Linked DNA regions of Homo sapiens. The protein of the gene in region 1 interacts with the protein of each later gene in a biochemical or structural test. Each region holds a gene or a part of one and is shown in the gene's direction. Other genes may lie near its edges.

Region 1 (7,026 bases):
CTGTGGCATCTTTAGGGCTTTCCTTTCCTGAAGGATTTGCAATTGTATTACCAAGTTTTATTTTTGAGAGCTTATCCACTCTCTGGCCCCACCTTTCTTTTCAGAGACACTGCAGGATCCAATTCTGTAAGTTAAGACCAGCAGCTCCAAACTTTATCAGAATCACACTGATGCTTGTTAAAATGCAGATTCCTGGGCCCCTGCTCAGTAGATTCTGATTCTGTGTATCTGGGATGGGGTGCCAAATCCTGATCTTTTAGAGGCACCCCAACTTGTCAGTGACTGGGGCAAAACCCTTCTTCGGTACTGACTTCTGATTGTGCCCCCTCCCACTTGTTTCTCTGTGATTAGCAACTGGGAAAAAGGAAAGAGGGCGATGACTGGATATCTTTGTGGGTCACAAACAGTTGGGTTCATCTGAATGGGAAAAAACAAAGCAGTTTAGTAGACTTGAGATTTTAGTGTTGCTTCTTTGAAGTGGGCCCTCTGGGTTAGAGGCTGGTCAGGTGGGCTTCCTAGGCGGTGACTTTGGCCTAGGAGATGTCCTCCAGCATTGGCTGCGATGGCTGTGTTAGTGACAAATCAGAGGGAAGGAGGGAGCTTGGCGAGTCCTGAAGTCTTAGAATTGAGATGCTTTTTAAGGGAAGCTTTTGTCCTGGGAAAATGATACCTCTAATATTTAAGATGAGGTAGTATCTAAGTCTATTCTAAACAGTTTTTTGTTAGAATGATTTTTCTTTGTTGTAAAAAGTTGTTAATCAGCCGCCTATTGTGGGTTGTTAACATCTCAAAAGGGTGTTTAAAAATAATAAACCCCAATTGCTCCCAACAATTAACCTTGGGAACAAAAGTAAATGTGAATGCTTCTTAACCACCTTTCTAAGCCCTCAGTGAAGCTGGCAGCCATCAGTTAAATAAACCATTAAGTTTATTAGTTTAAGAATAGAAGTGTCAACTTGGACACAGTTTTCTAATTTGCTCCTCATTTACCCAACAATCATTTATTCAAAGGCTGCTCTGCCTAGTAGACTTTAGATAAATCTACAAATAAAAGCCAGAGACTGATGGGCAGCTGGAACTCTAAGGGAATCATCCAAATGGAAAAAAAAGTGAATAAAACACAATTTAATAAACTTGAAATTTTAGCAGCACATGTAAAAACAAAAAGCGTATGCCTTAGAGCAATAGCTTTGTTCTCTTTCTGTAGTCTATTTTAAGTGGGCCCTCTGGCCCAGAATTATCAGCCTTGGATTAGGAGCTTTGAGGAAATGGTGGTTTCGTGGTTGTTTTTTAAAGGATTTTTAAAGAAATGTAGTTACTAAGCAACTGCCATGACCTGCTGCTAAGTTGGAGTTCAGCGGGCAAGTCGATTCCAAAGAAGGGAATATATAAACAAGTTTCAAGAAGGGGAAAACATGGCTTAAAGATAGATTGGGTGTACTTTTTTGTTCACAGTTCAATGCATAGTTCTTTCTCTCTTTGACTTATCTTCCCCTAAGAAAGGGCTGCCTGGTCAGAAATCTTTGTCTCACACGGTTCTGCCCATAGCCGGTGAGCTCAGAGGAGGGCCAGAAAGGAACAAATGAGAAACAATCCCCACCCAGTGTAGAGGGCCAAGCCCTGGGGTGGGGCCAGCACCCAGGCGGTCTCCAGAGGTAGACTGGCCTGCTGTTATGCTCTAGGACAGTCCAGGGCTTAGGTTGGGGCACCTCATTGATATTGATGGCTTGCCGTGTAACCCTCAGAACAGGAACATTGTCCAGCTGTTGTCTCTCTACCCTCCGCCACCCCACCCCCCGCAACGTTTAATGGGTGAGTCAGTGACTTAACTGCTTCCTCCAGGATTTCAGGAACAGGAGTAGGTAATGAGGACAAATCACCATAACACCGGCGTGTGATGAATGAAAGAGCACACGAATTTAACCCGTTGGTTAAACTGATATCACAGTGAACAAAAGAAACTTTGTTGAGAGGAGGTTATTTGCCTCACTCCATTCCTTCCCCTTTAGGCTTTAGCAATTCCCCTTACACCCAGTTGAAGGTCAGTCTGGTTGCTTTGCAGAGGGAAGGGGAGTGTCAGGTGCTGGAACAGGTGTTTTGTTTTCTCCTGTAGAGTCATACGGACTAGGTGGGGATGCTTCTTGCCAGCCCTCTATGGTGCACGAAATTGCTTTTGTGGAATTTTTTCCCCTGGAAGTGTGTTTGTTTTTTAAAGCAGTTTCCCAACCTTCAACCCCTAGTATAAATTTTGACTCGCTTCAAAGTCAGCTTGTCATAGTGAAGTGTGCCTGTTTTCTAGCATTTCCACGGCCTGTGGCCTTAGATATACCCCATTTTATGCGGCAATTATAGGCCTGGAAAATGTGTAATTGTGTGTTTGGTAAGTGTGAATATTGTATTTTAAATGTCCTAGGAGAATGTCACAGCAAAGCAGCCCTATAAAAAGCCTTTTATAATAATTGTACAGCTAGAGTTAATTTTCTTGTATCAGGTTTTCTTAAATTCGGCATAAACCTGTATTACATTTCCAGAGTGATAAGGCTGTTTCCAGCTGTTGTGATGGTCTCAATGGGCTATAAGGTTAGGGATGGACTTATGACCTCACTGACTGGATGATTTTGGAGGTGAGAGGTGTCAGCCGACTTCTCGGTTTGGGAGAATTTATGTTTTAATGTATGCTACTGAAGCCAAAGAGGCTATTGGTTAAAAGGGAAATAACTCAGGAGAGCTTTAATTCTCCTCATATGGTTGTTACGGTTGTGAGGTTTGTTTGTTTTTACCTCTGTACTGGGTTCCAATATCACCCCCCTTCACCCCAGCCAAAAAGTCATCCTGAAAAAATTGTCTTCTTGCCTAACAATGATATAATTGACCTCAGGTCCTTTCCAGCCCCTCCGCTCTGCGTCTCAGGGCCATCTGTTCTCTGCAATCCGCTTTTTGGGAAAGTCTCCTTTCCCATCTGCTCTCCTTGGGCCTTAGTGTCAGCTCTAAAGATTTATAAAGGTTGCACTGGAACCTCTTTCCAGTTGTTATTTTTATAAAGGATCAGTGACATTTTGAGGCAGATAAGAGCTTTGTGCATTTGACCTGCCCAAATGCTACTCCCTTTTCAGGTGCATTCTTTCCTTCTGTTAGTCTGGGGTTGAAGGGAAGTCTGTCTTTCTGTGCTTAGGAGGAGGGACTTTGCTTATCAAAGCAAAGACTGAGTGGGCTGGCTCTGGCTGCTTTTAAGCCAAGGGGCCTTCTGGCTTTTTGGCTGCTGGCATGCAAGCTCAGAGGCGCTCCTTGAGTTCATTCTTTTCCCATCTTTTCCCTTGTTTCCGTGACAGAATACAGTCGCTTTGAATCGAAGATACATGACTTACGAGAACAAATGATGAACAGCAGCATGAGCTCTGGGTCTGGGTCCCTCCGAACAAGTGAAAAGAGGTCCTTGTATGTCAGGTAAGTTGCCCTTCAGAGCACTAGCCCTTGTGCTGGACGAGGAGAGCTCCATGCCAACCCAGCCCTTCTTATTTAACTAGTGGGCTAGGGAGTATGTACTCCCAGTTCTAAAATAACGCTTCTCACTGTATGCTTAGGTTGTGTATTTTATGGTCAGTGTCTCCTCCCTTTTGTGAGCTGGCTTCTTCCTTTTAGCTCATGAATGACTCAGTATGGGAAAATTTCAGTTTGCTCTAATTGTAAAAGACTGTTGGGTGATTGTTGCTAGTCAGCATTCAAATATCAGTCAAATGTTCAAAGTACTTTGCTTGCAATCTGTGCTTTGAGGGGAAACTTGCCACCCCCCCATCCCCTTCCATGTATGCATAATAGACATCAGGATTTGTATCTGAGCATAGCAACTATCGCAGTGTTCTGGTACAGGATCTCTTTTAAGAGACCAAAGAACTGACAGGTTGCTGCATTCTGGATGTTTTATTGTGATTCCATTCCCCCCTCACCACCCGCTGCACTGGTCTGCTGTATCTATGAATCATGGGATGTATAGTGTATGTGCCCTAGGAAGAGGGAGGGGGTGGAGGGAACAGATAGGTAGCATGGAGTATATTGCTGCTGAAAGCTATTCCAAGATATTTCCAAGGTTGAGCTTCTCTGACCCTTGAGGCATAGCTTAATACTTTGTCAGGTCAAAGTACAAATCTCCTGGGGAGTTGGAGTGCCAAGTGAATACTGTGGACTCCTCATAGAATTAGGGATAGCTTCCTTCTTCCTGCTTTGGCTTCTTGGCAAAACTCCAAAATCTGGTGCCAAGTACATTGTATCCTCCAAGGTTAAAGCCCTTAGAGAAAGGTGGTGGGGATTACTCTCCTGAGCCAGAAGTTGCTACAGTATTGTGTTTAATGCTTAGGTGTGGGGTCATATCAAACTCTTGGGCTGAACTTTTTCTAGTGGCCTCTGATACCTGGCTGGGAAGTTGCACTTGCTAGTTGCTTGGCAACGTGACAACTGCTCTGTCCTTGGGGTGTGAGAGGACAATAGTGAAGGGATGTCAACGCTAATTGCAGTTTTTCTCATGGTGCTTGCTTTTCTTTTTCCCCAGTTGGTGGTCCCTGACTCTACCGCAGGGAGTGGAGCTAAAGGAGCCCATCTCTGAGCCTGAAGCCCACTAGAACCCTTCACAATCTTTCCTAATGTGAACCCTCAACTCCACCCCTTGTGTGTTGAAAGCATGTGCTATGCTTACCTCCCGCTGTGAAGGGAGAATGGTAGGAAGGCGGGACTAGTCACTGGTCATTTTTCCAATTCCCCGGAAAGGAAAGTTTTGTTTTCTGTCACTAAAGCCCTTGCTCCCAGTCTGCAGCCTGGATACTGGGGTGCTGATGGGTGAAATCAGAAATGCACTGTCGACCCCCCAAAATAGGTAATGGTTATATGACTTGGTCAGGATTGTTCCGTTCCGTGCTTCCAGCCCCCGCAGATGTGGCACTCCAGTGTGCGTGGGAAGCTGCTCTTTAGGCAAGACAGTTTCTTTGGAGAGCTTTATTTTTAGATTTCCCCTCTCCGCCTATCCTGTGTTAGAGTTCTCTCTGCCTGGGCAGGGGGAGTGGGACATTGGCTCCCGATATGGAGCACTCTTCCCTGGCTCAGGCAAGGGAATTAAAGGGATACACTTAGCTTAACTCTGGGGCGAGGGTGGAGACCATGACTGTGTCTAGTGAATCAGTTTATATAATCTGCCCGTAACCTTCTCTAGATAAATTATCTGTATCCTCTGAGGAAAGTAGATGTGGTTAGGAAAATAGTAACCATTTGTGATCACTAGATTTAATCAGGGGCACTTAATGTCTTATGGCTAAAGCATTGAGCTGAGGCCCTTTGCTAAGCTAACCCCTTTATCAGAACCTGGCTTACTCTCTTCCCTTTTGTTCCTGATTTTGGCCCTTCACTCTACACTTGGTTCCTTTTCTTCAGCATGTAAACATATTTAAGCTTCTTCCATTCTTAAAAAGAAGAAAATATCCCTTGATACCAATAGTCCCTTAAACTATTGTCTTGTATCCCTTTGCTTACTGCATTTGCCAAATTATTGGCCAGAAAACACTAGCTCCTCAAGATATTACTAAGTATTGTGTGAAAAATCAGTGGTTTAGTAAGTTGGGCAAATGCAGGCTTAAACAGAGGAAAATGGGGCTCTTTCCTGTGATTAATCTCCAGGAAGGACTGTACTAGGCAGTGTTTCCCCAAAAGATAGAGCGTGGGAGCCTTATTTGAGAAACCTATGTCAACATCCAGGTTGGGAAATGTTGGAGTACTTGCTGCTGCTTCAAATCACTTCTCTTTCACTAGCCCGAAAGGAAGCGTGCATCTGCTTTTCAGTGTGGTAGTGTGGCTCTGAACAGCTCTGGAAAGCTCCAGGGGAGCAGAAACCTGACTCTCTGTCAGGGATCAGTGGGTGACTTCTTAGTCTTCAAATTTAGTGACTGGTTCACTGGTTCTCTGACATTGTTCTGACCTCTTCACCACATTTGTTTCCATGAATTACCTGCTTTCTTCTTTAAAGGCTCTCTTTCTACCCTGCTTACCATTCCTTAATACCTTTCATTAGCTCTGCCCCCCTAAATGGCAATGTCATTTATTTTCACAGCTTCAAATCCTGCCGTATAAATGACATTCCTGATCTCTTTACTGAACTACAGACCTGCATATCTACTACTTGCTGGACATGTGCATAAATAAAACTGCCCTCTCAGCGCCTCAAACAAGCGGCATGTACTTTCCTTATCTAAGTTAATTGCCTCACCCTATCATGTGGAAAAGGGATTAGATTTGTTCTGTCACCCAAGGCAGATCTCTGCTCAACATAAGGAAGGAAGAGCTAATGATTAAAACTGTCTGAAAATGGAATGGACTGCTTCCGGATATAGTAAATTCGATCTTTAGTCACTCAAGGTGTTACAGAAGAGGCTGGGCAACCATTTGCCTGGGTATTGCAGAGGGGGTTGAAACTAAAGCAATAATCTGAACATGATCTGCTCAAAAGCTTTCACTAGTTCCTCAGTGTCTTCAAGATAAAGGGGAACAAACATTTAGGGAACACATTGTTCATCAAGACCTTTGTTATTCTCTTTAAATGGCTTTTAATATCCCTTTAATAATCCTACAGAGTAGATATTATGATTCCCATTTTGCAGATGAGAAAACTGAGACTCCAGTTAGATAGCTAAGAAGTTCAAAAACTGGAACTTGAACTTGGTTGCTCTGACTATAAAGTGTGGTTCTTTCAGTGTTTCCCCAACTTCCTCATAGGAATCAGCTGGAATGCTAGTAAAAATACAGATTCCCAGGCTCCTTTTCTAGTGCTTTGGATTCATCAGGTTTGGGAAAATACATGTGTGGTGTTTTTTTTTTTTTTTTTTTTTTTGACGGAGTCTCGCTCTGTCGCCCAGGCTGGAGTGGAGTGCAGTGGCGCGATATAGGCTCACTACAAGCTCCGCCTCCTGGGTTCACGCCATTCTGCCTCAGCCTCCCGAGTAGCTGGGACTACAGGCGCCTGCCACCACACCCGGCTGATTTTTTGTATTT
Region 2 (7,026 bases), on another chromosome or scaffold:
TGAAGGTTCCACTGAATACCAAGAGCCTGAGAAACTGCTTGGGTGACTTGACAAGTAAAGGCCGGTCCACTGTCGGACTGTATAGAGGTGGGAAGGCCAAACCGAGGAATTATGTCTGACAGAAGGGAAGAAATGACCGCAGTGGACTTCTCAGACCCTGTGGGAAAGGCCTCTTCCTATCCTGTGAAAGTGTCTACCCAGACCAAGAGGTATTTTAGTTTCCTGACTTGGGGCATGTGAGTAAAGTCAATTTGCCAGTCCTGGGCGGGGGAAAAACCCCGAGCTTGAGGTGTAGGGAAGGGAGGGGGCCTGAGAAATTCCTGAGGAGTAGTAGAATAGCAGATGGAACACTGAGAAGTGATTTCCTTGAGGATAGATTTCCACAATGGAAAGGAAATGAGAGGTTCTAAGAGACTGGCTAGTGGCTTGTAACCTACATGGAAGAGGTTATGAAATGATGACAGAATAGAATGGGCCTGTGAGGCTGGAAGGAGATATTTTCCTTGGTCTAAGAACCATTTGCCTTGTGTGGGAAGAGATTGATAGGTGGAAGTTTCAGCGGGGGACTAGGTGGGAGTGACTAATGTGAAGGAGAAAAACTGACTGTGAGGGACAGAAGTTGGAACGCTAGCTGCTTTTTTAGCTAATTTATCAGCATAAGCATTGTCCTGAGCGATGGGATCTGATGCCTTTTTGATGGCCCTTGCAGTGAATGACTCCAGCTTCCTCTGGAAGTAAAGCGGCTTTGAGAAGCGTTTTTATTAAAGACGCATTAATGATAGAGGACCCTTGTGTAGTGAGGAAACCTCTTGCATGGTGGTGCAGGATATGGAAGGCATATATAGAGTCAGTATAAATACTGACATGTAGTCCCTTTGCAAGAGTGAGGGTTTGACTTAAGGCAATGAGTTCGGCTTGCTGAGAGGTAGTGGAGCGGGGCAGAGCGGTAGCCTCAATGATAGATGTGGAAGATACTATAGCATAGCCTGCCTTTGCTGGTGAGTGGCGATTAGGCCTGGTGGAACTGCTATCAGTAAACCAAGTGTGTTCAGGGTGAGGAACAGGAAAAAAGGAAATATGGGGAAATGGGGTGAATGTCAGGTGGATCAGAGAGATACAGTCATGGGGGTCAGGTGTGGTATCCGTAGTAATGTGGGAGGCTGGATTGAAGTCTGGGCCAGAAACAATGGTAATTGTGGGAGACTCAACAAAGAGTGAGTACAGCTGAAGGAGCTGGGGAACAGACAGTATATGCGTCAGGTGGGAGAAAGAAAATAGATTTTGGAAGTTATGAGAACTGTAGAGAGTGAGTTGAGCATAGTTTGTGATTTTTAGGGCCTCTAAAAGTATTAAAGCAGTGGCAGCCGCTGCACGCAGACATGAGGGCTAGGCTAAAACAGTAAGGTCAAGTTGTTTGGACAGAAAGGCTACAGGGCACGGTCCCGGCTCTTGTGTAAGAATTCTGACTGCACTAACCATGCCTAGGAAGGAAAGGAGTTGTTGTTTTGTAGAAGGGATTGAGGTTTGGGAGATTAGTCAGACTTGATCAGCAGGGAGAGCATGTGTGTTTTTATGAGAATTATGCCGAAATAGGTAACAGATGAGGATGAAATTTGGGCTTGACTGAAGTAATGGGGGCTGTCTGTGAAGCTTTGCAGCAGTACAGCCCAGGTAATTTGCTGAGCCTGATGGGTGTCAGGTTCAGTCTAAGTGAAAGTGAAGAGAGGCTGGGATGACGGGTGCAAAGGAATAGTAAAGAAAGCATGTTTGAGATTCAGTCCGTCATCTTTAAGAAGAGCTGGGAGATGAAATAGGAATATAGGTGAAGGGAATAACTTTACATAAGGTCTGCATCAATAGCCCCAGCGCCACTTTTACTGCTTGTCAACTGCGAACATGTATCTCCTTTGTCACAACAACTATGGCCTTAGTGACAATGAATAACTGTCATTGTTAACACCTAATGCTCCTTTTGAACTCGAGATATGGCACATTTTAATACAGAAACTAGAAATGTTTATTTTACAAATATTTTGTGATTTTAAGATCGGAAATGTTTAAATCTTGAAAGCATTTTCCCTGATCCTCTGATAAACAGATATGAAAACTTTAATCACATGATAAAAGAGATACGACATTTCATTTGACATCTTCACTTAAAATAAAATGAGGCCATGTATACAAATGCATATCCAAGTTTCAGAATAAACAAGTAATGAATGTGAAAATATAGGAAAAGGAGTGAATTGTCTACCTTGTAGTTTATTATGCATTCATGGTAATTTGGTCTTAAAAGGGAACCTTGGAATTGTATGAATGTTATAGAAAAATGCGTAGAAGATTATTAATTCTATCATTCTCATCTTTTCAAAAATTCAACCTCTTTTTAGTAGTACTATGAAATCTTAATTTCCGAAGATAGGATTTATTAATATTCAAAGAAATTATTAAGATCCAAAGATAGGATTCTCAGTTCATCAGTGAGGTTGGGGAATTATTCTTGCTGTTCTTCTAGGATTTGGCTTCCAGTATATAACTAGAGTATGATTATCCAAAAATTTGGTCAACAGTGGGAGTAAGAAGGTATAGAGAATACAGTAGAAATTGCTAGTAATAAGTGAGAGTGTGACCAGTGAGGGATGTATTTGCCTCCCAGGATTAAGGTATGAGGTGACTTAGTGGTTGCTGCTCTTGATTTTGGGGCGGTGGGAGTGATGTTTAGTCCTGGCCTACTGGGTCATGCAATAAAAATGGTGCCTGATGATGTCTGTGGGAGAACAAGATGGCAAAAAGAGCCAGAGTTGGTACAAACTTTACAGCAAATTTATTTACTACTAAATTCTTTCAAAATTGGGTAAAGGCCTTTAACATGTCCACAGGTGACTGTATCTGAAAATGTGGATAATAAGAATTATGGAAGTCCCATAAACCCTTCTGAGATAGTTCCAGAGACAAACCCAACTTCACCAGCTGCTGATGGAACTCAGGTAACAGTTGCCGACTCCTGAAATAATGTGGGATTTGGAAAAACTTTGGGATGACTGGGTTTTTATTAACCTTAAGCAAACAAGGGAGATTCTGGAAGGCTCAAAGATCTCAAGATGTGTTGACAGTTAATAAATATAATTTTTTAAAAAGTCATAGATTGAAAAACTTTCCACCAAATAAAGCTACATTCTAACATCGAGTTGGGAATAATGTTCCTTGTAACATAGGAGGACATGTCACAAAGAAGAACAAATAGACTTCTGGATCCAGTATCTTCAGACCAGAGACATTTAAGTTGAGAAATTGACTCAGTATGAATAAAGATTTCACGGTGTCAAAGATACAGATGAAAGATCCGTCTGTGTGTGCCGTGATTTCTCTACAGCATGCATCTTTATTCTTTCAAGCTGTTCTTCGCTCTCCTGCTATTACAGATCTTTACCACTAGATGGCACTAATTTTTCCATTCATCATCCATCTATTCATTATTGGCCAACCAATCATCTAACTAACGTTATTCCCCTCGATGTGTCAGGGATGGTGTTTAATACTGGAGATTGAAAGAAAAAAATGCCACTAGATGGAGCTTCTTAAACATGCCTGCAGGTCCTTTGCAATTGGTACACTATTTGGTCTGCAGGAAGAAATTCAATAAATATATTTGATATTAAACTCTGTATTAATGTATATCATTAGTTTTAATGAATGCATTTGCAGCTATACCAGATATAGCTGTTTGAATCTGGACAAACTGTTTTACTTCTGGGGCTAGAGTCCTCAATAATATTTCTCACTGGGGGCGCTATTGGCATATTGAGTGGGACAGTTCTTTGTGCTACAAAACTGTCCTATGCACTCAGGGAATTTCAGTATTTCTGGTCCCTGTCCACTAAATTCCAGTAGTGTCTCCCCTAATTCAGTGTGACCCCAGAAATCACCTCCCCTCCCCAACACATGTGCACTCACTCCTGGTTGAGAACCGCTAGGATCTGGAATGTCTCTGTTCTAAGATTCTATGACCAATTTTGTGAAGTAATGTAAAGAAATGAAAGTCTAAGAGTAGTTGGAAATTTTACCATTTTATACAATCTTTATTTCTCAAATTTCATAGTCTATAAACATTGATATCTTGGTAACTTGGCAGTCTCATTATCACCTTAAACATTGGTTTCTGTTCTGCTGATTTAAATCAAAATAAAATTTGACCTAAATTGATGCTGAGAAGAGTCTATATCAAGGCTTCTGTACACCTTCTCAAATTCCCTTATTTCTTCTTCTCATGTCACACACACACACACACACACACACACACACACACTCATACACTCACAGACATACATAAATATTGTCTAGAAAGGAATTTTCAGTTTCAGATTTTTCAAGGGACTAAACATTTTTTCTTTAAGCTATATTAAAAATGGATTTTGAAGATTAATTTTCCACAGACACACGGATGCTTGAATGTCATATATTTGGTCCTCCAAGCCTGAGTCAACCCCAAGCTAGTGCCAGATTTATTTTATATTTTCAACATTTTTTCTCAGTCCATCTCTAGTCTAGTGATCTTCTTCACTAAATAGACATTTTCCCCAGCTGGTGCAGGAAGGGGACTGTGGTGGGGAGGCTGTAACCTCTGATCTGCATGTCTGTTATCAGAAACAAAATGTAAACTGACAGTCTCTTTCAAAGGAGAGCAGATCTTCACCAATTGTAGTCCTTTCTTTCTCTTCCCTTTTGTAATACCTTGGTTCCTCCTCTTACTTTTTTACATTAGTGAGGCTGAGACCCTCTAAAATGTGTCTTCCATGTTATGTCCAGGGATCTCACTGTATTTCTTCCCTCCTGGGCACTGAGTTAACAGCCAGCATGCTTTAAAAGCAGTAGAGGCGCTTGGGTGAGATCACCTAGGTTGATTTGAATATGCCAGAGTCCCACAAATGTATCTTTCATCCATAAATATGTTGAAAGACTAACAATTAAAAACATGGGCTGGGCACGGTGGCTCACACCTGTAATCCCAGCTCTTTGGGAGGCCGAGGTGGGTGGATCATGACATCAGGAGTTCAAGACCAACCTGGCCAACATAGTGAAACCCCATCTCTACTAAAAATGCAAAAATTAGCTGAGTGTGGTGGCATATGCCTGTAGTCCCAGCTATTCAGGAGGCTGAGGTGGGAGGATTGCTTGAACCCGGGAGGCAGAGGTTGTAGTGGGCCGAGACTGTGACACTGCACTCCAGCCTAGGCGACAGAGTGAGACTTCATCTCAAAAAAAAAAAAAAAAAGATTCAGTTCTATCATTTTCCAAAAGTTACATTGATATGCATAGGATCCCCCAAGGAGACAAAAATGAAAGTCACCGTCCCTTTCCTCTTGTTAGTAATTGCTTAACTTCAAGTTAGCCATTTCATTTTGAAGCAATGACATCTAAGAGACTTTGGCCCGCCCCACTTAACTGTAAGCGCCCAGAGGCAGGGCTCTGACCTGAATGTCTTCATGTTCCCCTTGGGGGCACTATGTACAAAGCAGGTTCTCACTTGAATGTGGGTTAAAGTGAAGACCTCTTCTACTTCTGTAGCCCTGTGTTCCCCACTCCTCCACAGGCTGGTCCCCTGCTGTCACAGAGTAAGAGACACCCCATAAAACCTGTGGGCTCCCTCAGCTCCTGTTGAGAGTAGGCTGTCTGTTCCCTTGTCTCCCACCAGGTTTTTATCTGGCAGTCAGCATGACAGGCAACTTTTCAGTAAAGCGTGGGCCACGCACCATGGTCCAGGGTGATTATCTTTGGGTTCTCCAGTTTATGGGCCTCTGGGTCCCCTGAGTAATCATTACCTGCCCTTCTACCTGCAAGTTAGTTGTATAATCTTGCTGTGACTCAGCAAGTATAGGATAATAAGTGTACCTACCTCTGGGGTTTGTTAAAAAAAATCAGAAACTTGTAAAACTCTTAGAATAGTTCCTGACACATAGTAAGCACTCAATAAATGTTAGATGTTTTTGTTATTATTATTGTGACACAGGAGGGAATGATGAAGGGAGAAGGGATACTCTTGAGTTGACCAAAGAATGTTACTTTAGGGAATAAGAGTTACAGTTTGGCTTTGCCATCTCCACCCAATTTTCAGGCAGCCCCAGAAATCTCTTTTTCTCCAGATGCATCTTGTGCATGTCTGTTTTATGTGTTCTCTCTGTACTGAGGTAACCAGGTGATTTGCTTGTAGATACTATGGCACAAATTCTATAATATATAAATTTGAAGTCAAAGAAGTGTTTAAAACCATTCGATTAAAAGAGCCCAGAGTTTCAGTTACTGTTCAGGGACCATAGGAGGAATTGAACAATTTACCATATGGGCTGAATCACATGGTCCCAGGTCCCAAATTGCTTTACCCTTCAGTAAGAAGAAATTTTAAAACTGAGACAGGAGGAAAAGAAACCCACAAAATAATTCCATTACTGAGAGGTTTTTGTTTTCCCCTTTTCATTTAGGTGACAAAATGGAATCTCTTCAAACGAAAATCTAAACAAACTACCAACTTTGAAAATCCAATCTATGCACAGGTAATTTTTAACAATTTTTCTTAGCACAGACATTTTTTCTTAGAAATTATTTGCTTGGTTAAATTGGACACACACTTAGATTATTCTGAGCAGAGTGGCCACAAATAGTCTTCTTTATGAAAAACCGTGTATGGTGACCTTGGGGGAATAAATGGCTGATTCCTGTTACATTGTATTCTTAGATGGAGAACGAGCAAAAGGAAAGTGTTGCTGCGACACCACCTCCATCACCTTCGCTCCCTGCTAAGCCTAAGCCTCCTTCGAGAAGAGACCCAACTCCAACCTATTCTGCAACAGAAGACACTTTTAAAGACACCGCAAATCTTGTTAAAGAAGACTCTGAAGTATAGCTATACCAGCTATTTAGGGAATAATTAGAAACACACTTTTGCACATATATTTTTTACAAACAGATGAAAAAAGTTAACATTCAGTACTTTATGAAAAAAATATATTTTTCCCTGTTTGCCTATAGTTG
Region 3 (7,026 bases), on another chromosome or scaffold:
GTCAAAGAATTTTTAGAAAAAGTTGCTTCTTCTGTTATTTTTAAATGATGTCTTATTTTTCAGTGATAATTTTAATATAATTTTAAATTATATATCCTCCTGGATTCTCATCAAAATTATTTTGTCAAGTATGCCACAATTGTCAGAAGCACAAAATACAAATAGTTATGCTCCATAGACATAAAGAATAGACCTGCTAGTTTTATGATCTGGCATTCTTCATTTCAGTAACTGTGTGAGTCACCTACTGGTATGCCTCCATTTTTCTAGCGATAAAATTAGAATAATGCAATTTTTGTAAAGTTTCAAAATCCTTGAATAAGTGATGTGTTTGCTATATTATTATTTAAAAGCAATAACATGTAGAATCATAACTATTTCTTCTCGATTTGTATATATCTTTCCTTTAAGTTAATAAATTACTGTTTGAGAGAGGATCTAATTTATCTATGAATCCCAGTGTTTATGTAGTAAATGGAAATATTCCTAAAATCTGTTAGTAATAGCTCAAACTGAGTATGTGCCAGGCACTGTTTCAAGCCATATTATTCATTTAATCTTCACAACAACTTCATAAGAGAAGTGCTACTTTTAGCCCCATTTTATAGATGAGAAAACTGATGCCAAGGGTGTGCCCTAGCAAGTGGTAGAGCCGGGATTTGTGCCCAGTCAGATTTCAGAGCCTGGGTGCTCTTTTAACTCCTCCCTGCCTTGGCTTCAATATTTTTCAGCCCATTCCAGTGTCAGACATGTTGATTGAAAGGTTGTATTTTCTAACGGAAGTAGTTAAGAATGAAATGATACAATGTCTGAGATTTGCTTTAAAACATTTAAGTAGGGACAAAAATGAAACAAATTGTTATACCAGACACTGTGGAGGCCCCTCGATAGACACATGGGATCCATTATGCCATTCTCCACTTTCATGTATGTTCGAAAATTTTCATAACAATAAGGCTTTTTTTTAAAAAAAAAAAAAGTTATTCCCTGCATTAAACTGAAAAGTTCATTAGATTTTAGGATGTAATTTCCTTGTTTGAATTTTAATTTTTTCCCCTATTGGAAATATTTGACTGGCCTTTCTTACACACTTATTTTTTGAAAAGTTACTGCTACTCAATAGAGTTCTTATTGTTTTGACAATGAAGAACAACTCTTACTTTCATGTTTCTGTATTTTATAATGTACAAAAATTGTTTTGTGAGAGGGCTTTACTTTGTCCAAGTTTGTATGAAATCATTGCACCTAGACATATATTTAGTGTCATCTGGTTTGTTTTTATAGGAGCCAAGCAATAAAAGAGTTCGACCTCTGGCTCGTGTCACGTCCTTGGCAAATTTAATCTCTCCTGTAAGAAATGGAGCTGTCAGACGTTTTGGTCAAACAATACAGGTAAAAAGAGAGGAGGAAGAGTAATGTAGTCAGCGGACTTTATAGAAGCCTGGAATTTGTAGTTGTCTTTGAGCTGTACAAACAAGTTTGCATTATTATATTTAAACATAGTTTTCTTTTTGGAATATGCTAGTAAGGAATATTGTTCCAGAACAATGTGTAGCCTCATTATATTAATTTGCATCTTATATTAATTTGCATCTTATAATGCATAGTCTTGGCTAGTTTTTATTCCCAAAAATGTAATTTTAGCTGATAAATATTTAAGATTGGTAGGTGGAAACTTGGATAAATTATTGTTTTCTGCATTGAGAAATTCTCAGAACTTTGTCTTTCTTCACTTTAAAAAAAAAGAAAATGGGAATAATTCTATTTCTTCCAAATCTTATTTTCTCTTTTGTTCACCTTTTCTTTTTTAAGTCATTTACCCTTCGTGGTGACCACAGATCCCCAGCCTCTGCCCAGAAGTTTTCTAGCAGGTCAACAGTCCCAACACCCGCCAAGAGAAGGAGCAGTGCACTGTGGTCAGAGATGCTGGACATCACCATGAAGGAGTCTCTCACCACCAGGGAGATCAGACGGCAGGAGGTATGCTGGCACTCAGTGTACATGTTTTCCCAAAAGAACAGCAAATTGATGCCGATGGCAAAATTAACTTGGATTTTTGTGTTTGAGCAACAATTCCTAATACATGGTGAACAAAACCTAATGATGGATGGTGGTCAAATTAAACAACTCTAATAGGGTAAACTTACCAAACATACGGCAACCTTGTATTTGAGATTCCATTCTGAATTACAATTTTCAGACTGAGTTACTTTTTAAAATGCCGTTCAAAACATCAAATAATGTAATTATCAGTTGTATATAATTTTCCTTTCTCGAAGGAATGACCTCTGATGTTTGCTGGATGTTTTTAGGCAATATATGAAATGTCCCGAGGTGAACAGGATTTAATTGAGGATCTCAAACTTGCAAGAAAGGTCAGTAAATAACTTTTTATCAGATGCCCTAGTTTTTAAAAATTACATTTCACAAAATCTAAAGGATAGTTTTCTTAACCTTTAGAAGTAGAAGAATAGAAAATATCTACTGGTGAATACATTTTTTTTAGGTGAGGTCTAGACACATCCTCAAATACAAGTATTAGTAAGAGAGTTTATTTGGGGATTAATACATACTAATTTATTTTATGTGTAGCAAACAGAATCCACGCTAGCTTTTATGTAATTAATTCTCTTTGTTTCCAAGTATAGATCCCTCATGTTTTCCTCACATGATCTCTCTGTGACACATTTCTCCCCTCTGACAGGCCTATCATGACCCCATGTTAAAGTTGTCCATCATGTCAGAAGAGGAACTCACACATATATTTGGTGATCTGGACTCTTACATACCTCTGCATGAAGGTTAGATGTGCCACTTAATTGTCATTAAATCTAAAGAGCAGCGGTGCATGTAATTTTCAGTCTAAACTTCTAATGTAGTGCTGACCTATTTTTTAAATAAACCTGTTAATGGTGTTTATGCTTTTTTATCACTTCAGATTTGTTGACAAGAATAGGAGAAGCAACCAAGCCTGATGGAACAGTGGAGCAGATTGGTCACATTCTCGTGAGCTGGGTATGTAGTGAGTTGTTGACCCCAGATACAGTTTCTTACAGATGTGCCATGTTGCAGTTTCTGATGAATATGAGACAGATTTGATCCCACAACTCTGTTCTACAAACACATAAGGCGTTAAAACTGAACAAATTTACAGTGACATAAGAAGTTACAGTCTGTTTAAAAAAAAAAAAAAACACCTTCATTAATGCTATAGGTTCATTTGTGTTACAAATACGTTCCTGCTTGGATAGAATTCCCACATCATGTGTGATTATCCGTTGCATTCTGTCATGTATGTTTAAGCGCATGCCAAATGCGGGGCACTGTTTGAGGAGGAGTCGCTGGGAGTCAGTGATGAAAGGCAGTCTCTGCCTTTATAGCCTAGTGAAGGAATAGCCAAGCACATAAACAGTCTCAGGGCTGGTGGCAAATGGAGGACACTCAAGTGTCCTGGGAGCACAGACTGCCAGTGTCTGAGGTTGGAGGGGAGTAGAAGTCATGAATCTTCACTTGGATTTAGCCAAATTATGAAAATTTGAAGAGCATTTTGATGATTGCTAAAATGCTATTCAGCTTCCATTATTATCTGCCAGAAAATGTCCACAGCTTGTTAAAACTCTCAAGAATAGCTGTACATTTTGTGTTTCATGTTTGCAGGCTTGTTAATGCACTCGGTCATAACAGGAACACATCATACCTTTTCTTTTATTACTCTTCAGTTACCGCGCTTGAATGCCTACAGAGGTTACTGTAGTAACCAGCTGGCAGCCAAAGCTCTTCTTGATCAAAAGAAACAGGATCCAAGAGTCCAAGACTTCCTCCAGCGATGTCTCGAGTCTCCCTTCAGTCGAAAACTAGATCTTTGGAGTTTCCTAGATATCCCTCGAAGTCGCCTAGTCAAATACCCTTTACTGTTAAAAGAAATTCTTAAACACACTCCAAAAGAGCACCCTGATGTTCAGCTTCTGGAGGATGCTGTAAGTAGTCCCTTAAGTGATTGTTTTGTTTTTTAAGTTTATACATTAGGCTGCTTTAGAACGTTATCTTCTGAAGATGCTGATTCACATCAGCATAGTGAATTGTTTTGTTGTTTTAAGTACCCAGTGCGTTAGTACGCTGTGCACTAAGCAATAAGGAGCTGTGTATGCTGGACTTCGCACATTTTGTATCTTAAGGGACAGGATTCTCATCTGATCTCACCTTGTCACCTTTGAACAAATCACTCAATTTGGCTAGGACTGTTTCTTGATCTATAAAATGAACAGACTGGCAGAATTAACTGATTTCTAGAGTCCCTTCAAGCTTTAAAGTTCTTCCATTCCATATGACATTTTTGCTCTGCAGGAAGCAGAATGAGTTAATAAACTGAAGCTGCTCTGTCAATTTTATTTATCATTTTCAGATATTGATAATACAGGGAGTCCTCTCTGATATCAACTTGAAGAAAGGTGAATCCGAGTGCCAGTATTACATCGACAAGCTGGAGTACCTGGATGAAAAGCAGAGGGACCCCAGAATCGAAGCGAGCAAAGTGCTGCTGTGCCATGGGGAGCTGCGGAGCAAGAGTGGACATGTAGGTGACTTTTGCTGCCGTGGCAGAGCAGCCTTCCCTCCTGCCTCTTTAACTTTTACACGTTTGTTATGAAGCAGGCTTGTAAAGGGAAAGTCATGACATAGTAAAAGAAGGTTGCCAATTTTAATTTTATATTACCAGCTTGATAAAGCCAACAAAGAAGATACCTTAAATGTCTCAGTGGAGAATCAGTAATACTTTATTTTTTAGTTTCGAAGCATAAATCAACTTGTTAGGCCAGGGGTTCCTGTCTAAATACAGTATTAGTTCCATAATGCTTAATAAAAAAGCATCCTTCAAAAAAAACTTCTAAGAGTTTATCTTATGCTTATGAAAGTGGTTTTTCGCACTACATAACAAATTTCTGAAGCAGATTGAATGAATGCAAATGTATTTTTTAAATGCTAATTATAAAAGTACCTGCTAGAACTAAGTGCAGTCACGGAATGGTATTTTTGTTTCATCATGCATTTTCAAAAGCCCAATTTATAAGTTGGAGTTTTGTTTAAAAAAATTTGAAATCTGACATCTTTGATTTTTCCCTCACGAGGGGAAAATTTATAAAGGTATAAATTTGTGTGGGACAAAATAGAACCATTAACATTTTACCAGCTTGCATTTTTAATCCCTCCTTCGTGTTAGAAAACTGTGGTATACAACGCTAGTGTTTCAAGTCATGTTGCTACTAATAGGTCTTTGTGATGCAGAGCATTCACTTAGCTGCTGCTTAATCTGATATTACATACCAATAAGAAACATTTTATTTATTCTGAGATTGGAAAAACTTTCCAAATAGAACATGCTTAGCCTTGAAATTGCCATCTTTATGGATTACTAGATTTGTCACTTAGAGAGATCTTCGAAAAATAAATCTGATGAAATTAATAATGTCGAGTTATTTTAGCAATATATTTCAGTCACTTAAAAACACAAGTTTCCTATTTAGCGTTTGTTTCCCATTTCTCCAGAAACTTTACATTTTCCTGTTTCAAGACATCTTGGTTCTGACTCGGCCCGTCACACGGAACGAACGGCACTCTTACCAGGTTTACCGGCAGCCAATCCCAGTCCAAGAGCTAGTCCTAGAAGACCTGCAGGATGGAGATGTGAGAATGGGAGGCTCCTTTCGAGGAGCTTTCAGTAACTCAGAGAAAGGTAAAATGCAGGCCTTCAATAATTTAAAGAAATAGAAGCTCAGAACTGAAGTGAATTTAGTTTTGCCTTTAAGAATTCTAGAGATGAAATGGCTCCATTGTCCTATACTTGTTACATCCATTGAGTTGTCCAGGCCTTCCCAGCTCGAACACCCGCAGGTGTATCTAAGAAATAATGCATAGGCTTAATGTATTCACATTGACATAAATAAATTGCCATAAATTGACAGTCACGTTAAGATTGTATGACCACTTTGTCTAGAATAAACCTTTTTTTAGCCTGATTTCTTTTTTTTTTCCAATTTTTTTTTTCAGCTAAAAATATCTTTAGAATTCGCTTCCATGACCCCTCTCCAGCCCAGTCTCACACTCTGCAAGCCAATGACGTGTTCCACAAGCAGCAGTGGTTCAACTGTATTCGAGCGGCCATTGCCCCCTTCCAGTCGGCAGGCAGTCCACCTGAGCTGCAGGGCCTGCCGGAGCTGCACGAAGAGTGTGAGGGGAACCACCCCTCTGCGAGGAAACTCACAGCCCAGAGGAGGGCATCCACAGTTTCCAGTGTTACTCAGGTAGAAGTTGATGAAAACGCTTACAGATGTGGCTCTGGCATGCAGATGGCAGAGGACAGCAAGAGCTTAAAGACACACCAGACACAGCCCGGCATCCGAAGAGCGAGGGACAAAGCCCTTTCTGGTGGCAAACGGAAAGAGACTTTGGTGTAGAGAAGGCTCTGTGTGTTAACTGATGGGAGAGACTGTTTGTTTATAAATGTGTACAGTTTTGTTTTCTCGTAAGGGGAGCATCATAGGGTTACTTTATACCAGTTGTAACATTTTCATTGTTTTTGGTTGTTCTTTTTTCTTTTTTTAATGGCAGCTAAAGATATACAGATTACTGTTAAATTGCAGTCCTTTTTTTTTTAAAGATATTTTCTTGAATTATTTAGAACATGGTAAGCCTGGTATTTTTTAATCAAACAAAATATTTATGAAATGGGTTTTCTCTTAATTCTGGATTCATCATGGCTTTCTAATACCAATTGTAATATTTACAATATTCACCAAAACTTAGAATTTTGCAAATGCTGGAATTCTGCCAGTGTTTCTTTGCTAAGCCTTGCATGCAAAATTTGAAATTTTAACATTGGCACCCAAAACCTACATGGAATGTATGTCTGGAGTATTTCAAACTTTACATTGAAACATAATTTCCTTGGAAAACAAACCATAAGCCTGAGGAGGTTTTTATCAACTGGAATGCTTTATATTAGTTTGTTTTTCACTGTACATTCCTCATTTT
Region 4 (7,026 bases), about 58 Mb from region 1:
GCTGACATTTATACATGAATATTTTAACATCCACTAGGATATCAAAAGACTGAAGATAGAAGTTTTGTACTATCATTACAACATTTATCTTAATTTCCTAAAAACTATGGTAAAACTCTGACGATCCTTGACCGTCTCTGAATTCAATGAGGAAAACACTCAATATCTTCCTCCATGAAGTAGGGAATATTAAATCTCACCTTACAAGGAAAAGAACAATTAATGTTCTGGAATAACGGCCTATTGAAATCTCACCTTTAAGGGTAAAAGACATGTTGTATATTTACATTTGTAGATATGAATGAAGCCTTTTAATAATAGAACCAAGGGTCAGATGGAATTAAGCTATACTTCCCTACCCCCAGATGGTATTACATTTTATCAAATAGCAATTACAGTTTATGCAGTATCAATTTTGTTAAGGTCGGTTCTCCTAACCCAAGGAATTCTTACACCTGAAGCCTAAATCAATAAGTACTATATTTGGGTAGTTGAAAAACTGTATTTACATAAGTGATGCTACAAGCCATTAAGTTAAAAAACAGAGACGAGCCTCCCACCCCCGCCCCACCCAAAACCAGACAGTACAGTAATGTGTCTTTGCGTGATTCTTTCTCTTTAGGACCTGAAAACAAGGGGAAGCATAACCTCCTTGGCCCAGATTGGAACTGTATACCCCAAATGACCACCTTTATTGGCGAAGGGGAACAAGAAGCCCAGATAACATACATAGATTCAAAGCAGAAGACGGTGGAGATCACAGACAGCACCATGTGTCCAAAAGAGCACCGGCACTTGTACATAGACAATGCCTATAGTTCAGATGGACTTAACCAGCAGCTGAGCCAGCCCGGGGAGGCCCCCTGTGAGGCAGACTACAGAAGTCTAGCTCAGCGGTCCCTATTGACCCTCTCAGGACCAGAAACTCTGAAGAAAGCACAGGAATCTCCGAGAGGAGCTAAAGTGTCCTTTATTTTTGGAGACTTCGCCTTGGATGATGGTATTAGTCCCCCAACCCTTGGCTATGAAACGCTACTAGATGAGGGTCCTGAAATGCTGGAGAAGCAGAGAAATCTCTACATTGGCAGTGCCAATGACATGAAGGGCCTGGATCTCACTCCAGAGGCAGAGGGCATCCAGTTTGTGGAAAATTCTGTTTATGCAAACATAGGCGATGTGAAGAGCTTCCAGGCCGCGGAGGGGATCGAGGAACCCCTCTTGCATGACATCTGTTATGCAGAAAACACTGATGACGCGGAGGACGAGGACGAGGTGAGCTGCGAGGAGGACCTCGTGGTGGGGGAGATGAACCAGCCGGCCATCCTCAACCTGTCTGGGTCAAGCGATGACATCATTGACCTCACATCCCTGCCCCCTCCAGAAGGTGATGACAATGAGGATGACTTCCTGTTGCGTTCCTTGAACATGGCCATTGCCGCACCCCCACCTGGCTTTAGAGACAGTTCAGATGAAGAGGACTCTCAGAGCCAGGCAGCTTCCTTCCCCGAGGACAAGGAGAAAGGCAGCAGCCTGCAAAATGATGAGATCCCCGTGTCCCTCATTGACGCTGTGCCCACCAGCGCCGAAGGCAAGTGTGAGAAGGGACTGGATAATGCCGTCGTCTCCACGCTGGGAGCTCTAGAGGCTCTATCCGTGTCAGAAGAACAGCAGACCAGTGACAATTCAGGTTCTTTCACAATTGTTACATTCATTCACTGATAACCATATCATTCCATCCTTCCAAGCCATTTGCCCCTGGAGTCCTGTTACGTGGTGTTCTCCATTTCACACATGTCCCATTTCATAAATGTGCTGAAACTGCCATCATGGGTTTTTTTGTGTGTATGTGATTTCCTTTGTTATTTTTTTTTAAAAACATAAGGCACATCTCCCCCCACCCCCATTTCTGGAAAAACTGCAATAAACTCAGAGTCCTTACTGAAAAGGGAAAAACTTGGTATTTTGTTTTAGTAATAACGAGTCCCATTTTCTTACATGTCTCCAAGTGCCTCTGATGCATCCATTAATCAGTTCTTGTTTTTTACGGCATGCAGGTGTAGCCATCTTGCGGGCTTATAGTCCTGAGTCTTCGTCAGACTCGGGCAATGAAACTAACTCTTCTGAAATGACTGAGAGTTCTGAACTGGCCACAGCACAAAAACAGTCAGAAAACCTCTCCCGCATGTTCTTGGCCACTCACGAAGGCTACCACCCCCTTGCAGAAGAGCAGACCGAGTTCCCGGCCTCCAAGACCCCCGCTGGGGGCTTGCCTCCAAAGTCCTCGCACGCCCTGGCTGCTAGGCCAGCAACCGACCTCCCGCCCAAAGTTGTGCCTTCCAAGCAGTTACTTCACTCAGACCACATGGAGATGGAGCCTGAAACTATGGAGACTAAGTCGGTCACTGACTATTTTAGCAAACTGCACATGGGGTCGGTGGCATACTCCTGCACTAGCAAAAGGAAAAGCAAGCTGGCCGATGGTGAGGGGAAGGCACCCCCTAATGGGAACACAACAGGAAAAAAACAGCAGGGGACCAAAACGGCAGAGATGGAGGAGGAGGCCAGTGGTAAATTTGGTACTGTGTCTTCACGAGACAGTCAACACCTGAGCACTTTTAATCTGGAGAGAACTGCCTTTCGCAAGGACAGTCAAAGATGGTATGTGGCCACTGAAGGTGGGATGGCTGAAAAAAGTGGATTAGAAGCAGCAACAGGGAAAACCTTTCCAAGAGCTTCTGGTCTTGGGGCAAGGGAGGCCGAAGGGAAGGAAGAAGGAGCTCCTGATGGAGAAACCAGTGATGGCTCAGGACTTGGTCAAGGGGACCGCTTCTTAACTGACGTGACCTGTGCATCTTCAGCCAAAGACTTAGATAACCCAGAGGACGCTGACTCGTCCACCTGCGACCATCCTTCCAAGCTTCCTGAGGCTGATGAGAGTGTGGCCCGCCTTTGTGACTACCACTTGGCCAAGCGGATGTCATCACTGCAAAGCGAGGGCCATTTTTCTCTGCAGAGCTCCCAAGGCTCTTCAGTGGATGCAGGCTGTGGCACAGGCAGCAGTGGCAGTGCCTGTGCCACACCCGTGGAGTCGCCGCTCTGCCCCTCCCTGGGGAAGCACTTGATTCCTGACGCTTCTGGGAAAGGCGTGAATTACATTCCTTCAGAGGAGAGAGCCCCTGGGCTTCCCAACCACGGAGCCACCTTTAAGGAACTGCACCCACAGACAGAAGGGATGTGTCCACGGATGACAGTGCCTGCTCTGCACACAGCCATTAACACCGAACCCCTGTTTGGCACATTGAGAGATGGATGCCATCGGCTCCCCAAGATTAAGGAAACCACAGGTACAGCAATGATGGATTTAGCACTTTGTATGACATGCCAAGAGCATGTAAACCATATTTACAACAAACTTAAAAACGTAATGTCTGGAAGAAAAGTAAAAGGTAGAATTTTAAAAGGCCACAGAACTGTAAAGTACCAATCATTGATCCCCTGGTATTTAATAAATACTAAAGATTATAAAGGTGAAAATGGCATTTGCTCTTTATAATCTTACTCTGTGCTTGCTTTCAGAATTGGATGGGGCAATATGTTTTTCCTAAATTCTAAATGCAGATGTTTAGCAATGCCCAGTGTGACTTTTAGTTATATGATAGTATTGCTTAGAGTCACATAACAGTTTGATTTTCTTCCCAAGACATCTGAGTTCTAATTCTGCCATTTCATTATTGAGGGACAAGGAAGGATAAGAGAGCAGGGTATCAGGGAGATTGGAGGGGTTTGGAGAGATCATTTGCCTTTCGGCAATCTTACTGATTCCTCCCTACTCTGTAAGACTGCTCTATATGGATGTTCTGAAGTGTCTTGCATACCCCAGTGTCAGGAAGATTTTGAGGCTATTCCTGATGAGCTGCTTTATTTTCCCCAAAATAATAAAGTGTAAACACACGTAGAAAAAAGAACACATCCACCTTCTGTATCCCACCTTCACCACTCCACCACTCAATGGCAGGCATTCCCCTCACCGATCCACTTGGCTGGCCATCACATGGCAAAAGCAGATACTCTTTCATACTTTTATGTTTCAAATTATGTCATCAATAGTGTCTTTTCCATACAGGTCAATGGAAGTTAGTGACATCTTATATTGGTCATTTTCTATTCCTGTTCTTTTAAGATTTTCTACTTTCTCAAAACCCACCACTGGCTTTACCTCCTTTGGAAAAGCTGTCTGTGAATATCACCTAACTCATCACCCAACTGCATCTTTACCTCTAAACTAAGTCACACTGTTTAATCCTTCATGATTTATAAAGAACTTTCACCTGAGTTACCTCTTGCTTCTCACAAAAATTCTGTGAGATGGGGATTATTTGCTTCACATGACAGCTTTTCTTAAAGAAAAAAAAAAATGTTGAACAACTGGCCCAGTGTTTCAACTTCAGACTTTTACCAGGCAAACCTCATGCTGACTTCTTAAAAAGATTCACTTATTTAATTTGCACTAATTAAATTAGGCCACTTCTTTAAAAGAAAGAAAGGAAAGAAAGGAAAGGAAAGGAAAGGAAAGGAAAGGAAAGGAAAGGAAAGGAAAGGAAAGGAAAGAAAGAAAGAAAGAAAGAAAGAAAGAAAGAGAAAGAAAGAAAGGAGGAAGAAAGAAAGAAAAGAAAAGAAAAGTAACAATGCCAGATTTAACCTAATTCCCTTGAAATGAAACTTAATATCTCCAATATATTTGAATAATCTATACACAGTTGTTTTCTGTGTCTAAGCTTTGATGGGTAGATATTGGGAGTAAGGCAATTCATGAAATCCCTGAAAATGTTTGGGATTTCTAGACAATTCCAAATGAATCAGCAGTTCCAGAAATAACAGATTCCAGTATTTTCTTGATATTCATTAAAATGGAAATTTGTTATGAGATATCAAGAGGCAGTCTTTGGAAAGCAGGGTGACCTTAGCATCGGCAGCCCTTCCAGACTACAACCTTGAGAAATGACAGACATCATGTAGAGATGTAGTAAAAATGACCTCCCAGGAGATGCTTAATGATTCTCTCTGTTTTTCTACTACCCCTAGTGTAGCTTTGACAGAGCCTGGGAAGGAGAGACGAGGAGGCATGCCTTCAGCTTGGTCTCAACATCCTGAAGCTGATCCCATCCTGCTACCATCAAACATTCACTCGGAATCAAAGGTGCCAATTCCAAATCAAGACCCTAATGATTTCTCCCAAGCAAATCAGGCATACGGAGAGGCTGTGAGCTGGCGGCCACCGGATCTGAGAGGGGGGAGCCTCAGGACACCTCCCAGCCAGAAGGCTCTGAGACATAGCAGCAGTATCCTCTCCGGATCTGTCGATTTGGAGACCTTCCGAGAGAGAACCAAGGGTGCAGTCAGCTTAAAGTGTCCAGGCATCACAGAAGCACAGGAGGCCAGTTCTGAAAGGCGAGCAGAACTCCCCCTGGGGAGGAAGCTCACCAAAAGTTTTTCCCAAAGCTCAATGCACTTGAGCTCTGAGGGGAGGTTTCACAAAAGGTCCCCAGTGGCTCATAAAGACTCAAAGCTGTATAGGACATTACCCTTGCGGAAGCTGGAGGGCAGCAATTGGAGATGCCGGGGACCCTTCAGCTATTGCTTCCTGAACCGAGGGCAGGATGAAGATGGTGAGGAAGAAGAGGAGAGGGGAGAGGCCACCGTCCAGGTCTCTTGCCTCTATAGACCACAGATGACTCAAGCCATGCCAGAACCAAGCAGCCCATGCCTGGCTGTGGCGATTCAGAAGCAACGAGGGGAGCTATCCAGAGGGTCAGTGCTGAAGGTCTGGGCAGAAGACCTGCGAGACCCAGATGACTTGGACTTCAGCAACCTGGCTTTTGATGCCCGGATTGCAAGAATAAATGCCCTAAAGGAGAGCACATATGCAATGCCTGATGGGTTCCTTGCAGCCCAAAATGATGCCAATGAGCTGCTCTGTCTCGTCAGGGCAACCAAGGAGAAGAGGGAGGAGTCACGCCCTGAAGCGTACGACCTTACACTTTCTCAGTACAAGCAACTGTTATCCATTGAGTCCAGACAGTTGGGAAGTGCCTGTAGGAAAATGGCGATGGCTGAGAAAAGCCCGGAGGAGATGCTCCTAGCTATGACTTCCAGCTTTCAAGTGCTCTGTTGCCTAACAGAAGCTTGCATGCGATTAGTTAAAGTCGTGAACTCAGAAACACAGCGGCAGGAAATTGTAGGGAAGATCGATGAAGTGGTCATAAATTACATTTGTCTACTGAAAGCTGCCGAAGCAGCCACTGGAAAGAACCCTGGGGACCCTAATGTTGGACTCTCGGCGCGACACTCAACCACCATGGCCGCTCTCGTAAGCACACTGACACGTTCTCTCAAGAGGCTTTTAAACAAATAAATATGGAAGTCACGTCATAATCTACCTTTGCAAAGCCATACATGAACTTTTATTTACTTTGTGTGTATGATGAACAGATGTCTCCTTTCTTCTCTCTGTATATTTTGTTATTTTATATAAAATAGGAGATAAAAGTCACATTGATGAAATGTTGAAATGTACTAATCAGATGTATTCTGTTTATATTATACATATATATACACGTAAAAGAAATATCCAAGAAAGTGATGACATTTGGCTATTTTTCATATAGTTAAAACTCCAGGTATATGATGTGAAATTTTAAATTCTACCATGTTAGAGCAAAACAATGAATCCTATCCCCTTTCTTTCCAAGTAGCTACTTGGAAACCATATCATTCATATTTAGAAGTAAAACACAAAACAAAAAAGAGAGAGAAAAGAAAAGAAATCACAATGTATATAAAACAGTACTTATGTTTTAAAATTATGATTTTTAAGCATTGGAAATAGCAAAAAGACATTTAAAATTCAAGAAGCTATTATGAATTACTAGAGAATATATCTGTAATAAATTAATTTTTTGCTCATAGTATTTGGTTACTGGATGCTTTCTTCCAAGAATCCCACATATTTAATTTGGGTTTTTGCTA

Evidence for each region.
Region 2: the proteins of DLG3 (region 1) and LRP2 interact in a biophysical measurement, tested with the Homo sapiens proteins (one study listed by IntAct).
Region 3: the proteins of DLG3 (region 1) and NET1 interact in a test that uses a peptide from one of them, tested with the Homo sapiens proteins (2 studies listed by IntAct, with this or other methods).
Region 4: the proteins of DLG3 (region 1) and FRMPD4 interact in a test that uses a peptide from one of them, tested with the Homo sapiens proteins (2 studies listed by IntAct, with this or other methods).

The regions. Positions count from the first base shown.
Region 1 is NC_000023.11:70,475,821-70,482,846, forward strand, and holds part of DLG3 (disks large homolog 3), read left to right. Parts: exon of another isoform or gene 1-1,808; coding exon of another isoform or gene 1,809-1,812; intron 1,813-3,329; coding exon 3,330-3,444; intron 3,445-7,026. UniProt on the Homo sapiens protein: Required for learning most likely through its role in synaptic plasticity following NMDA receptor signaling.
Region 2 is NC_000002.12:169,128,535-169,135,560, reverse strand, and holds part of LRP2 (low-density lipoprotein receptor-related protein 2 precursor), read left to right. Parts: intron 1-2,879; coding exon 2,880-2,987; intron 2,988-6,476; coding exon 6,477-6,548; intron 6,549-6,730; coding exon 6,731-6,898; 3' UTR 6,899-7,026. UniProt on the Homo sapiens protein: Multiligand endocytic receptor. Acts together with CUBN to mediate endocytosis of high-density lipoproteins. Mediates receptor-mediated uptake of polybasic drugs such as aprotinin, aminoglycosides and polymyxin B.
Region 3 is NC_000010.11:5,450,546-5,457,571, forward strand, and holds part of NET1 (neuroepithelial cell-transforming gene 1 protein), read left to right. Parts: intron 1-1,284; coding exon 1,285-1,392; intron 1,393-1,812; coding exon 1,813-1,980; intron 1,981-2,279; exon of another isoform or gene 2,280-2,312; coding exon 2,313-2,375; intron 2,376-2,704; coding exon 2,705-2,801; intron 2,802-2,938; coding exon 2,939-3,015; intron 3,016-3,719; coding exon 3,720-3,977; intron 3,978-4,402; coding exon 4,403-4,573; intron 4,574-5,541; coding exon 5,542-5,728; intron 5,729-6,042; coding exon 6,043-6,449; 3' UTR 6,450-7,026. UniProt on the Homo sapiens protein: Acts as a guanine nucleotide exchange factor (GEF) for RhoA GTPase. May be involved in activation of the SAPK/JNK pathway Stimulates genotoxic stress-induced RHOB activity in breast cancer cells leading to their cell death.
Region 4 is NC_000023.11:12,715,447-12,722,472, forward strand, and holds part of FRMPD4 (FERM and PDZ domain-containing protein 4), read left to right. Parts: intron 1-622; coding exon 623-1,687; intron 1,688-2,054; coding exon 2,055-3,344; intron 3,345-5,082; coding exon of another isoform or gene 5,083-5,087; coding exon 5,088-6,412; 3' UTR 6,413-7,026. UniProt on the Homo sapiens protein: Positive regulator of dendritic spine morphogenesis and density. Required for the maintenance of excitatory synaptic transmission. Binds phosphatidylinositol 4,5-bisphosphate.